Homo sapiens: one gene and its partners. The protein of the gene in region 2 interacts with the protein of the main gene of each other region in a biochemical or structural test. Each region holds a gene or a part of one and is shown on either strand. Other genes may lie near its edges.

The links.
Region 1: the proteins of BACH1 (region 2) and MAF interact in a test that uses a peptide from one of them, tested with the Homo sapiens proteins (one large-scale study listed by IntAct).
Region 3: the proteins of BACH1 (region 2) and CREB1 interact in a test that uses a peptide from one of them, tested with the Homo sapiens proteins (one large-scale study listed by IntAct).

Annotation. Positions count from the first base shown.
Region 1 is NC_000016.10:79,593,338-79,595,597, forward strand, and holds the end of MAF (transcription factor Maf), read right to left. Parts: exon of another isoform or gene 1,217-2,260; coding exon 1,123-1,216; 3' UTR 501-1,122; downstream 1-500.
Region 2 is NC_000021.9:29,336,060-29,341,616, reverse strand, and holds part of BACH1 (transcription regulator protein BACH1), read right to left. Parts: intron 1-5,557. UniProt on the Homo sapiens protein: Transcriptional regulator that acts as a repressor or activator, depending on the context. Binds to NF-E2 DNA binding sites. Plays important roles in coordinating transcription activation and repression by MAFK.
Region 3 is NC_000002.12:207,602,902-207,606,488, reverse strand, and holds the end of CREB1 (cyclic AMP-responsive element-binding protein 1), read right to left. Parts: 3' UTR 501-3,587; downstream 1-500.

The DNA.
Region 1 (2,260 bases), on a different chromosome or scaffold from region 2:
CAGCTACCGAGACAGCTGTGTGCCATGTTTGTGAGGGTGACCATGATCTGTCTTCTGTCCACTGCTTTTAGCAGGAAAACTGGCAGTGTGGCAAGGGGGTGGTTCTACTTCAGAACAGAAGTATCTAGAATTGGTGTTGCTAAGTAAAAATGACTGGGGTAAAGGCACAAGGGAGAAAAGATCAGAGCGTGAGCATCCTGCATTCAGTAATAAACAGCATTTCCCATCGGAGGGGTCTGTGTTGAAAGACTCCCAGGTAGTTATGGCTTTGAGACAGTGAGGAAATGATGTCTCCGTAGCAGATTTATTTGCCAGGCAAAAGTAGAATGTCTGCCTATTTGATGTCAATATATTAATGTGTCAGATACATTGTAAAAAATTATTACATGGTTTTTGAAAAGGGAAACATGCAAGAAGCCAGGGAAATGTAAAGGAGGTGATTTTTTTTTTTTTGAGTAGGAGCAAAAAAGAAAAGGGAGCAAAAAATCACACAGAGGGTGTGTATTTAACTAACTTTGTATTTTGCCACACATTGTTTTCATTTACAGCTATGTCTGACAAATGAGCACGTTTGACATCACTGATAAATGCAACACCGTCTAGGGCCTACGAGAAAACCAGGGGGCTCGGCTCCGCTGGAGCCTCTGCCCGTGGATTTGTTTAGGGAAGGGGAGTCGAATATCTATTTTTCTTCTTAGTAAAATTATCTGCCAGAGAAACAATGAAGCATGAAAAAGTACTATTTAGAATGTGCATGCCTATATATGATTTTAAAATGCTAATTGTTGCATTCCGGGAAACTTTCCATTATATATATGCATATATATGTATCTTTGTAATTTCAGTGAATTTTTAAAACTAGTATGGCAGGTTGAAAGCAATGCACCTGTTTACTTGCACACACCATAAATCGAAAAGCAGGAGTGCGCTTTCCTACCGGTCTCTATGAAACCCCCAGACAAGAGGCATAGTTAACTACTACATTTAATAGCCTTCTTCTCTAACACAGTAATTTTTATTTAAAAAGGAGACTAAACAGAAGTCAGGGGTAGGTGGTTCTCCATGACTGCAAATAATAATAATAATGATGATTTTTTTTAATGTACAGCTCTCACACAAATTTCATTTTGTGAACACACTGGTAAGTACACGATGCTGGGGCTTCCAAAATGTGGCGTATCCCACTGATGGCTCCAACTTGCGAGTGGGCTCAGTTCTGTAATTGGAATGAAAGGAATTTTAACACTATTTAGACAAAGATCAAACGCAGCGTAAAGGGGAAAGCTAGATTTCCTCATATGATTTTTTTTTTTTTAAATTTAGAGACTTATTGTAATGAATGGCACTTACTCAGGATTTAGGAGTTCTTTGTAAGAAAAAAAAAACATGTATTTGTTTGCTACTCCCACTATACTTCAAAGTTTTCAGTAATTGTTATTTCTAAAAATGCCTTTTACTAGGAGTTAACCTTCTCTTACAGCCAGCCACTCAAACCTCATTTTTGCCAGCACCTTTGCATTTGATTTTCTAAAGTTTGGGGGCCCAAACCTGCTTATTATATTCAACTACCTTGTAGATTCCTATCAAAATGCTTAATTCTACACAACTATATTTTCCTTCCAATCCAGGCCTCATTTGTCATGAGATAACTGCAATAACTACATCCAGAATATCACTCTTATTTTGAGAATGTTTGCCTAAAATCTTTCATCAGATGCTTTTTTGTTAAAAGCATTCTCTCCATTTCTGCTTCTTCAGAGTTTGTGTATCTCTTAGTTGTGATGAGGAAAAAAAAAAAAAAAGGAAAGAAATATCTGAAGTCAAGAACACTTGACTTCAAGCTCATGAGGGGAGGTTTACTATTAAGACTTTTGTTAAGCAAAATTAAGTGTGGATTCAGGAGCCTGTCTAAACTAGCACATAAAGGAAGGTCAAAATGTCGAGGTTACACACTGTCTTCGTGTTTTGTAAAAAATAGGCAGGAAGGCCAGATGATAAACTGGCCAGAACTTAGCAGCACCAAACACAACCTGTTTTCTTAAAAATAAGTCTTTCAGTCAGAGTTGCAATATTATCTTTTTTTCTTTTAAGAACGGCAGAAAACAAAACAAAAGTCATCGTGTTTGGCTGTATTTTCAAAACAGTGCTGGCTTTGTCTAACATTCTATTGGTGTGCTAGGGGAAGATGACTAAGAGTGCAAACTGCATGAATTTGTAACATTAGTTTCATGAATTTGTGTCATTTAAAAATAGGTCAGCG
Region 2 (5,557 bases):
ATAATTTTAAGATATTACCCCTATAAGAAAGTCTACCACAGAATTTTTCAAAAGTTTTTCTGGTTCCTGCCTTCCTGTCCATGTCACTTATCACTGCTGACAGCATGTCTTTTCTATTATCATCCCATTTCATCCTTCTTGTTCTAACATCTTATTGCTTCTAATCTATTATGAGCCAGGAAACCAAATAATCAAGGTATTTATAAGAAAAGAGTAAATAAACACTTGCTAGAAAGTCAAACGTTTTTCTTATGAAATTTATCACAACTCTCAACAAGTCAGTGTTGTTCTGTTTGCTTTCTGTTCATTGACAGGTTCTGGAGAGTTGAGGCTGCCAGTTAACCTTGAGACAAGTTAGTTCATAGTGCTAATCTATAAGTGCCATCCTTTAGTCTTTTATGACATAAAAGTCACTAAAAGGGTAAAACGAATTTTGCTTTATACAAAAGTATTGTTATGGTTTTATACAAAAGTATTACTATAAAATTATGTATGAATCCAATTATTGTTATTTCTAAAATATTTTAAAGCCTTGTAATATTTTGAGAAAATATACAATAAATACAAAATACTAAATTTTTATATGGCAAAGTATTCTCCAATCTGTTCAGATTTTTATATACAAGTTCTTTTTTTTTTTTTTTTTAAATAGATGTAGGTCAAGAATGTGCGTGTTAAGTATGTGTATGTAAGCAAAATCAATGTTTGGCCAGTACATTTTCTCTTATGCAAAGTTTATCAGTTGCACTCTTCTGATAAAATGAGTCTGCAGATACTGAAAGGGCAAGAACGGTACCTACTGCTTGTTCACAGTAGGAACCATTAAATGCAATCAACACCCATTTCTTTTTATGGTCTCTCAGAAGCCAATCCAAAGGAGGATGAAAACAAAGCTTCCAGAAGAAAGTGAGAAAGAATCTTTCTTCACTCATGGCAATATTCAGCCATGGACTCCTCTACCAAAGTTGGGATGAATCTATTCTAAACAGCAATAGAAAATTTTCAACTGCTGGTTGGTCTTTTAAATTAAATATGGTTCAACAAAATAAGGAGTACTTGAGCTTCCTCCCAGAAATTAGAACCACTACTTAACCTACAGATACTATGAAGATTACAAATATTTTATGACTTCTGTATCTTAATATCCACATGATCTTTAAATACTCTCACTCCTCCCACCCCACTAAATTAGGGATGACATCATTCTTTAAGTATACAAGATGGCTTGCTTCTTCACAACAACTAAAACAAATAGGCACAGCCCTAGAACTCCACCAGAATTATTTCTATAAATTAAATGTTCCCATCTGTTCCCCTGCACTTTAACTCCTACACAGCTAAGCTTCTAAGCAGTTTCCATTTCACTCTAAGTTTAAGACACATATTTACTATAATAGCAGTCAGCTTAATAACTAAAAGTAAAATACAAGTAATTCAAGTTAATTACTTAATGACATCAGTATTTAAGATACCTCCCAAAGTCACTACTTACAGTCATGAGTGGGACTCACTATTAGTGTCCTGCTACCTATCCCTACAATATATTTCCATTTTCCTATAAAAACAACTGTATAAATCACGTTTGAAGTGCTGCACCTTTAATTAGAGCTATTTCTTAAAAAGGAATAAAATTGGCATTCTGGTACCATTCTGGATTTTATACCAACAAAAAATCTTTACAGGCTGGGCACAGTGGCTCACGCCTGTAATCCCAGCACTTTGGGAGGCTGAGGTGGGCGGGTCATGTGAGGTCAGGAGTTCGAGACCAGCTTAGCCAACATGGTGAAACCCTGTCTCTAATAAAAATACAAAAAAATTAGCTGGGCATGGTGGCACACACCTGTAAACCTAGCTAAAAGGGCAGGCTGAGGCAGGGGAATCACTTGAGCCTGGGAGACGGAGGTTGCGGTGAGCCGAGATTGTGCCGCTGCACTCCAGCCTGGGTGACAGAGCAAGACTCTGTCTCAAAAAAAAAAAAAAAAAAAAACCTTTGCATCTAAATCCTTATTTTGAATAGCTAGTGCACAATATTTATTCAAATATAATTTTTTTAAAGATCATAAATATAACTCACCCAATAAAGATATAGAAGAATTTGGCACCAAAAGTACAAGTGACAATTTTATGATAGGGTAAAGAGTACTCACTGTTAGAAAATGGTCACTAATAGTTCCTTAGTAAGTAAAACCTCTGAACGGCAGTTCAGAGAAATCTGCAAATGGCACTGAGAAATATAAGCAAAAATGCTCATTTTCACTCATAAGATAAAAATAAAAGCTACCACGAGATATCATGGTATCTCACTATCAGACTGGAAAAAACCCAAAAGCTGACAACAAATCTTGACTGAGGGTGTGGACAGACACACACACATATACTGCTGCTGGAAGGCCAAATATGACAATTCCTAAGGAGGGGAATCTGTTAATATCTAATAAAATTATGTATGTATTTACCCTTGATCCAACAATCCCACTTCTAGGAATGTGTCCTAGAGACACAGCTCCTTAAACATGAAACAGTATACAGTTATTCACTGCAGGATCCCAACTGTCCACCCACAGAAGACTGGTTTGAACTGTATTACAGTCACTACTGAGTACTATGGAGCTGGAAAACGAATGACAACCTCTCTGAACTAAGAAAAAATATTTCCTATAAATCAATTCTTAAGTTTAAAAAGTACAGAAAAATGTATATAAAATACTTCCATGCAGCAGGATGGATAATAAGAGTAGACATAAAATGTTAACACATTTTTAGAAAAGAAACACAGGGAAAAAAAAATCCAGAAACTAATGAAAATGGTTACCTATAGGAAGTAGCTATGAATAGGGTATAAGGAGAAGATGAGATCAAGATTTGGAGTATATATTTTTTAAAATATAGTTTTAATGTTTGAACCATATAAACGTTTTACATTCAAAATAAAACAAATTAAAAATGTAGGCCAGGCATGGTGGCTCATGCCTAAAATCTCAGCACTTTGGGAGGCCAAGGCAGGAGGATCGATTGAGCCCAGGAGTTTTGAGAGGAGCCTGGGCAACACAGCGAAACCTCACCTTCACAAAAAAATTACCCGGGCATGGTGGTGCGCACCTGTAGTCCTGGCTACTCAGAAGGCTGATATGAGAGGATTTGCTTGATCCCAAGAAGTCAAGGCTGCAGTGAGTCATGACTGTGCCACTGCACTCTAGCCTGGGTGACAGAGTGAAACCCTGTCTCAAAAAATGTAGAGTAAATCCCAGTAATATAAATAGAAAAAAAAATTAATTGTATGCCAAATTGGTAACACAAATATTTCAAATAACTTTAAAGCTTCACACTGGGAAATATTTAAGCATAAAAAAGCAAATAAATCTCAAATTCTGCTCAATTTGTTTACTGTTAATAGTAATACTGATTGTCTAATTTTCTTACTTTTTATACAGTGTGCCCTCACTTAAAATCATCGACAGGTTTTTGGAAACTGACTTTAAGAGAAACAACGCACACCAGGTCCTCAATAAACATTTTGTTCCACATCCTTTCTTTTTTATTTTATTGTTTATTTATATTATACTTTAAGTTCTAGGGTACATGTGCACAACGTGCAGGTTTGTTACATATGTATACATGTGCCATGTTAGTGTGCTGCACCCATTAACTCGTTTTTTTTGTTTTTGTTTTTGTTTTTGTTTTTGTTTTAAGACGGAGTTTCGCTCTTGTAGCCCAGGCTGGAGTGCAATGGCATGATCTCAGCTCACCGCAACCTCCACCTCCCAGGTTCAAGCGATTCTCCTGCCTCAGCCTCCCGAGTAGCTGGGATTACAGGTTTGCACCACCATGTTGGCCAGGCTAGCCTCGAACTCCTGAGCCACCGCACCCGGCACATTAGGTATATCTCCTAATGCTATCCCTCCCCACTCCCCCACCCGACGACAGGCCCCGGTGTGTGATGTTCCCCACCCTGTGTCCAAGTGTTCTCATTTTTACAACATCCTTTCATTATAAAGTTGATGAGGAAAAAAACTGGTTTCATTATCCATCATTTCATGTTAAGTGAGAACTTACTGTATATTATAAAGGAAACAATACACTAATGTAATTGGAGCCAAAATTTTTCCTGTAAATGATGAGAGATTAAACATAAACACAGAAGTGAAGACAAAAGCTCTATACTGCTAAATTTGGACTGGAAATACTACATAAACTCAGGATTTCTAATGTACTTTTTACTTTCATTTACTGAAGCCTGATATATATGAATTCATGATATAATGAACTTTATTTTATACACAGATGCATATATTTCCTAGCTCTGTCCACTGAAAAAGGCCCAGAAGGAATAATACTCCAGCAGCAGGTAGGCTTTCCAAAGTCCAATATAACTGCTAGAAGAAACCAGGAGTTTTAAAGAAATGGGTGATTCCAAATCTTGAAACAATAGAGGTTAAAAAGTGAGACCATGGCAAGTGCTAGATGGTTATGTCAACAGGACAGGAGCTGGCTTGAACGGGCTCTCCCAGGCCAAATTTGAAAAATGTCAACATCAAAAAGAATAATGACTATTACTTATCCTAACAAATTGAATCAGAAAAAATTAATCCATGAGTCCACTGTGATTCCAAAGAGTGGGAGGGAGGGAAAAGAGAAAACAAGAAAAGGCCAGGCATGGTGGCTCATGTCTGTAATCCCAGCACTTTGGGAGGCTGAGGAAAGCAGATCACTTGAAGTCAGGTGTTCGAGACCAGGCTGGCCAACACGATGAAAACCCATCACTTCTAAAAATACAAAAATTAGCTAGGTGTGGTGGTGGGCACCTGTAGTCCTAGCTATTCGGGAGGCTGAGGCAGGAGAATCACATGAACCTGGGAGGTAGAGGTTGCAGTGAGCTGAGATCACGCCACTGCACTCCACACTCCAGCCTAGGCAACAGAGTGAGACTCTGTTTCAAAAAAAAATAAAAAAATAAAAGAGAAAGAAAGGAAGAACAATCCTTTTTAATCAGGAATACCAACTAAAATAATGTAAATAGAATGAAAGATTTAGAAAAATCATGATTTTGTAATCATGGTAATCACAGTGAAGGTCATCAACATATTCTAAAGGATGCAGGAGTATTGGGGAACGGGATAATTATAAAGTGCCCAAGTAACACATCATAGATAACTAAGCAACACAGGTTGAAAAAATATTACTTTGAAAATGGAGCAATCTGGCACTTCCCAGCTACCCAGGTACGACAATACTGACACTGGACCTCCTGCCTCCCTAGGCGACACAATATAAAGGACAACACCAGTGAATGTTTAAACTCAGTCTCCTCAACTCAAACATTTCCAGTTTACGGGAAGTAAAGGGATGGAGAAATGACTTAAAGCCATGGGGAAGCAATCAGACAAATAACTTAAAGTAAGACATTTATGAGAAATCCAGCCTGGATACTTCAAAAAGTTATTGTCATTAAAACAATGAGAGTACTTGTTCTAGATTAAGAGACTAAACAGGTTTAATCAAATGCATTATACGATGACTGTATCCTCGTTTGAAAAAAAAGCATCTATGAAAGATGGGA
Region 3 (3,587 bases), on a different chromosome or scaffold from region 2:
TTTTTTGAGACGGGAGCCTTGCTCTGTCGCCCAGGCTGGAGTGCAATGGCGCAATCTCGGCTCACTGCAACCTCCGCCTCCTGGGTTCAAGTGATTCTCCTGCCTCAGCCTCCCGAGTAGCTGGGATTACAGGCGCCTGCCACCATGCCTGGCTAATTTTTGTATTTTTTAGTAGAGATGAGGTTTCACCATGTTGGTCAGGCTGGTCTCGAACTCCTGACCTCAGGTGATCTGCCCTCCTCTGCCTCGGCCTCCCAAAGTGATGGGATTACAGGCGTGAGCCACCCGCACCCCGGCCCAACTTGAAGATTTAATTGTTAGCTTTCTGCTCTAAAATCATGTTACACCTTTCCTTCTACAACCAGAGGGGTTAAAAATTTAGTAACACTAGAAAAGATGGCATATTGAAAACTTGTTTCTTTGCTAAGAACAGTTATTTCTGAGGATATTAGAAAGAAAACAGTATTAACAGAGATGAGAAAAGGAAAGCCTTATGAAAGTCTGTGCCACTTCTAATTTTAATTCCAGAAAAAAATGCCTAGACTGTAAAGTTTGACATAAAAATAGTAATCAACATAAGTTAATAAAAATTGCTTAGCAGATACCTAATAATCATTAGGAAACAATATCCAAATATGAAGAAAACCATAATTCAGAAATAACTTTTACTTCTCAGTATCCTGGAGATACAACTTGTGTAGACCTAGTTACCAACCTCTGTATATCTGTAACAGTAAAAAATTTCAAACAGCCAAATGTCCCCAGAAGAGGACTGGTTAAACTGTATCTGTACAATGGCAGCAGTTTATAAACCACTGTTTGTACCTACCTTTTGTGTAAAAAAAGGGAGAGGGAGGAGGAGAGAACATACATTATATTTGTGTATATATGCACAGACTGTCACAAAAAACATAACACAAAAAACTTCTTACAGTTTGCCCTTTTCCATGTTTCTTTTTTTTAGAAGTGTACATATTACATAAAGTAAGTTTGAAAACAATGAGGACATTATAAAGCAAAAACTTATAGGCGAAAATATTATAAGGGCCTAGTACCCAGAATATATAAGGAACTCAGAACCCAACAACAAAATTTCAATGAACAAAGGACCTCAACAGACATTTCTTCAAAGAAGATACGCAGATGGCCAAAGACAACAAAAGATGCTCCACATCATTAGTAATCAGGGAAATGCAAATCAAAACCACAATGAGAGACCACACCCATGAGGATGGCTATAATTTTTAAAATGGCAAAATAAGTGTTGGTGAAGGTGTGGAGAAATTGGAACCCTCATACATCAATGGTGGAAGGTAAAACGGTACAGCTGCTGAGGGAAAGTTTGACAGTTCCTCAAAAAGTTAAATGTGCGATTTCAACATGACCCAGCAACTCCACTCCCAGGCATATACCCCAAATAATTGAAAACACGGACTCAAATACTTGTACACGAACATTCATAACAGCACTATGAACATTAGCCAAACAGTAGAAACAACTCAACTGGATGAATCGATAAACTTGTGGTATATATCTACAATGGCATACTTACTATAAAAAGTATACTTAGCTATAAAAAGGAATGAAGTAGTGATAACATGTTACAATGGATCAACCTCAACAACACATTAAAGCTAGACGAAAGAAGTAATACACAGTGTATGAGTCTCACATGAAATACCCGGATGTAAATCCAAAGAAACAGGAAGCAGATTGGTGGTTGCCAGGGACAAGGGCGGTGGGAGGAGAAAATGGAGAGTAACGGGACTTTACTTTTGGAGTGATGAGAATGTTTTGGAGCTAGATAGAAGTGGTGGTTGTACACCATTGTGGATGTACTACCACTTAATTGTTCACTTAAAAAGTTAATTTATGTGAATTGCATCTTAATTAAAAACAAGGATAACATTCCAACTCCTGGACATTATCCTTCCTTTCCATTTGATGTCAGGCCCGTGTTAGAATTCTCATCCGGTTTGGTCACTGCACTTAAGAAAGATGTGGAGAAATTAGGACGCACAGTTAAGAAGAAGGATAACACTGATTAAGGTAGTGCTTTTCTAGGTTTCCCCTAAACAATTTAACAGATGGATAGTGGCACCACTTACGAGATGGAAAAACCAGCGGAAGGAAGATTTGGGGGAGAAGTTAAGTTTGTCTTGGGCCTGTGTTTTGCAACCTGAGTGTAAAAGACATATGTTAAGTCTTCAGTGGCGAAACACTAAAACTAGAAATGGATCAGAATTTTATCTTTGGATGTGACTTCTCAAGGATGGTCTTGTCACTTCAGTGCCTGGTCAAATGACAAGATGGGCAATCTTTTCCTGAAGGTCCAAGCACCTGAACGTGGCAGGGTGACCCGATTCCGATTTGCTTAGAACAATCCTAGTTCATGCCTATTGTCCCTCATGTAATTAATATCACTCTCAAAATGTCTCATTTTGTGCAATAAATTCTGTAATCGTTGTTGCAGAAAATAAATGAAATTCATTAAGCCTTCCAATACAATGGCAGGTATAGCAGGCTTGAACACATCTTGGCAGTGAAGAAACATACAAATAATGCAGCTGCTTATTTTCAGATGTCTCGTCTCAGAACTTATTTCAGAAGTTAATAGTATAGGAGATAACTTTTTTATTCTTACAGCTTAAGCAAAGATTAACCATATCCCCTCCCCTTTCCTTCCAATTTATATGATCACAGAGTTTTAGAATTGCAAGGGGACCTGAGAAGGTATATAGTCTTATTGTCCTTTCAGTGAACACGTGTTTTATGACATCAGACACAGCTGGTCGTATGTCTCCATTAGTCATCTTGACAGTAACATCTCCAAATCCACAAATAGGCACTGTTCAATCTTATTGAAAAACAGGTTTTGTCCTGAAAATTAGGGATCCAGTAACTGAAGACATGTTGTTGTCTGAATTAGTTTTGCTGCCTTCCAACACAAGCTTGTAATATATTGTAACTTTAAGTCCAATAAAACATGGCTTCACACTACTAGCAAAAAAAACCCAACAAAATATAGAGATCCCATCCCCAAAAAAGAGACTTACAGAGTTTTTAAAAGCATGTTTATGTGACTGCACATAAATGTTTGTGTAAAAAGAGCATTATGACAGTTGATACCACAAAGATTACAGTAAGAAAAAGCACTTTATGACAATATTTCACAAATTCACAAGGATCACTTTAATATACAAAGCAACTGCTACTATTCTGAACACAAAGCAGCTATTATGTACATAGTGTTAATAAAATGCATTGTAACTCAGTACATTTTTTTCTTTACACATAAAGCACAAAAAGATTTAGATAAAAAAATTAAAACAGGGATGTTTCTAGAATGTAGGGAATTTTATTAGAAATGTATTTCCCTCATTATAGTTATTTATTTAGTATTCAACTCCAATAGAAACATCAGAGTTAAAAATCAATACCCTGTTTTGTGCTGACAGTTGTGGGGGAAGTCTTCTTTACCCCAACCCTCAAAAACCAAAAAGCCAAACACCTTTCTAGGAACTTCCCTGATTATTTTGCTTCTAAAAAGTTTCAAGTGATACATCTGGGTTAGAAATAATTCCTTT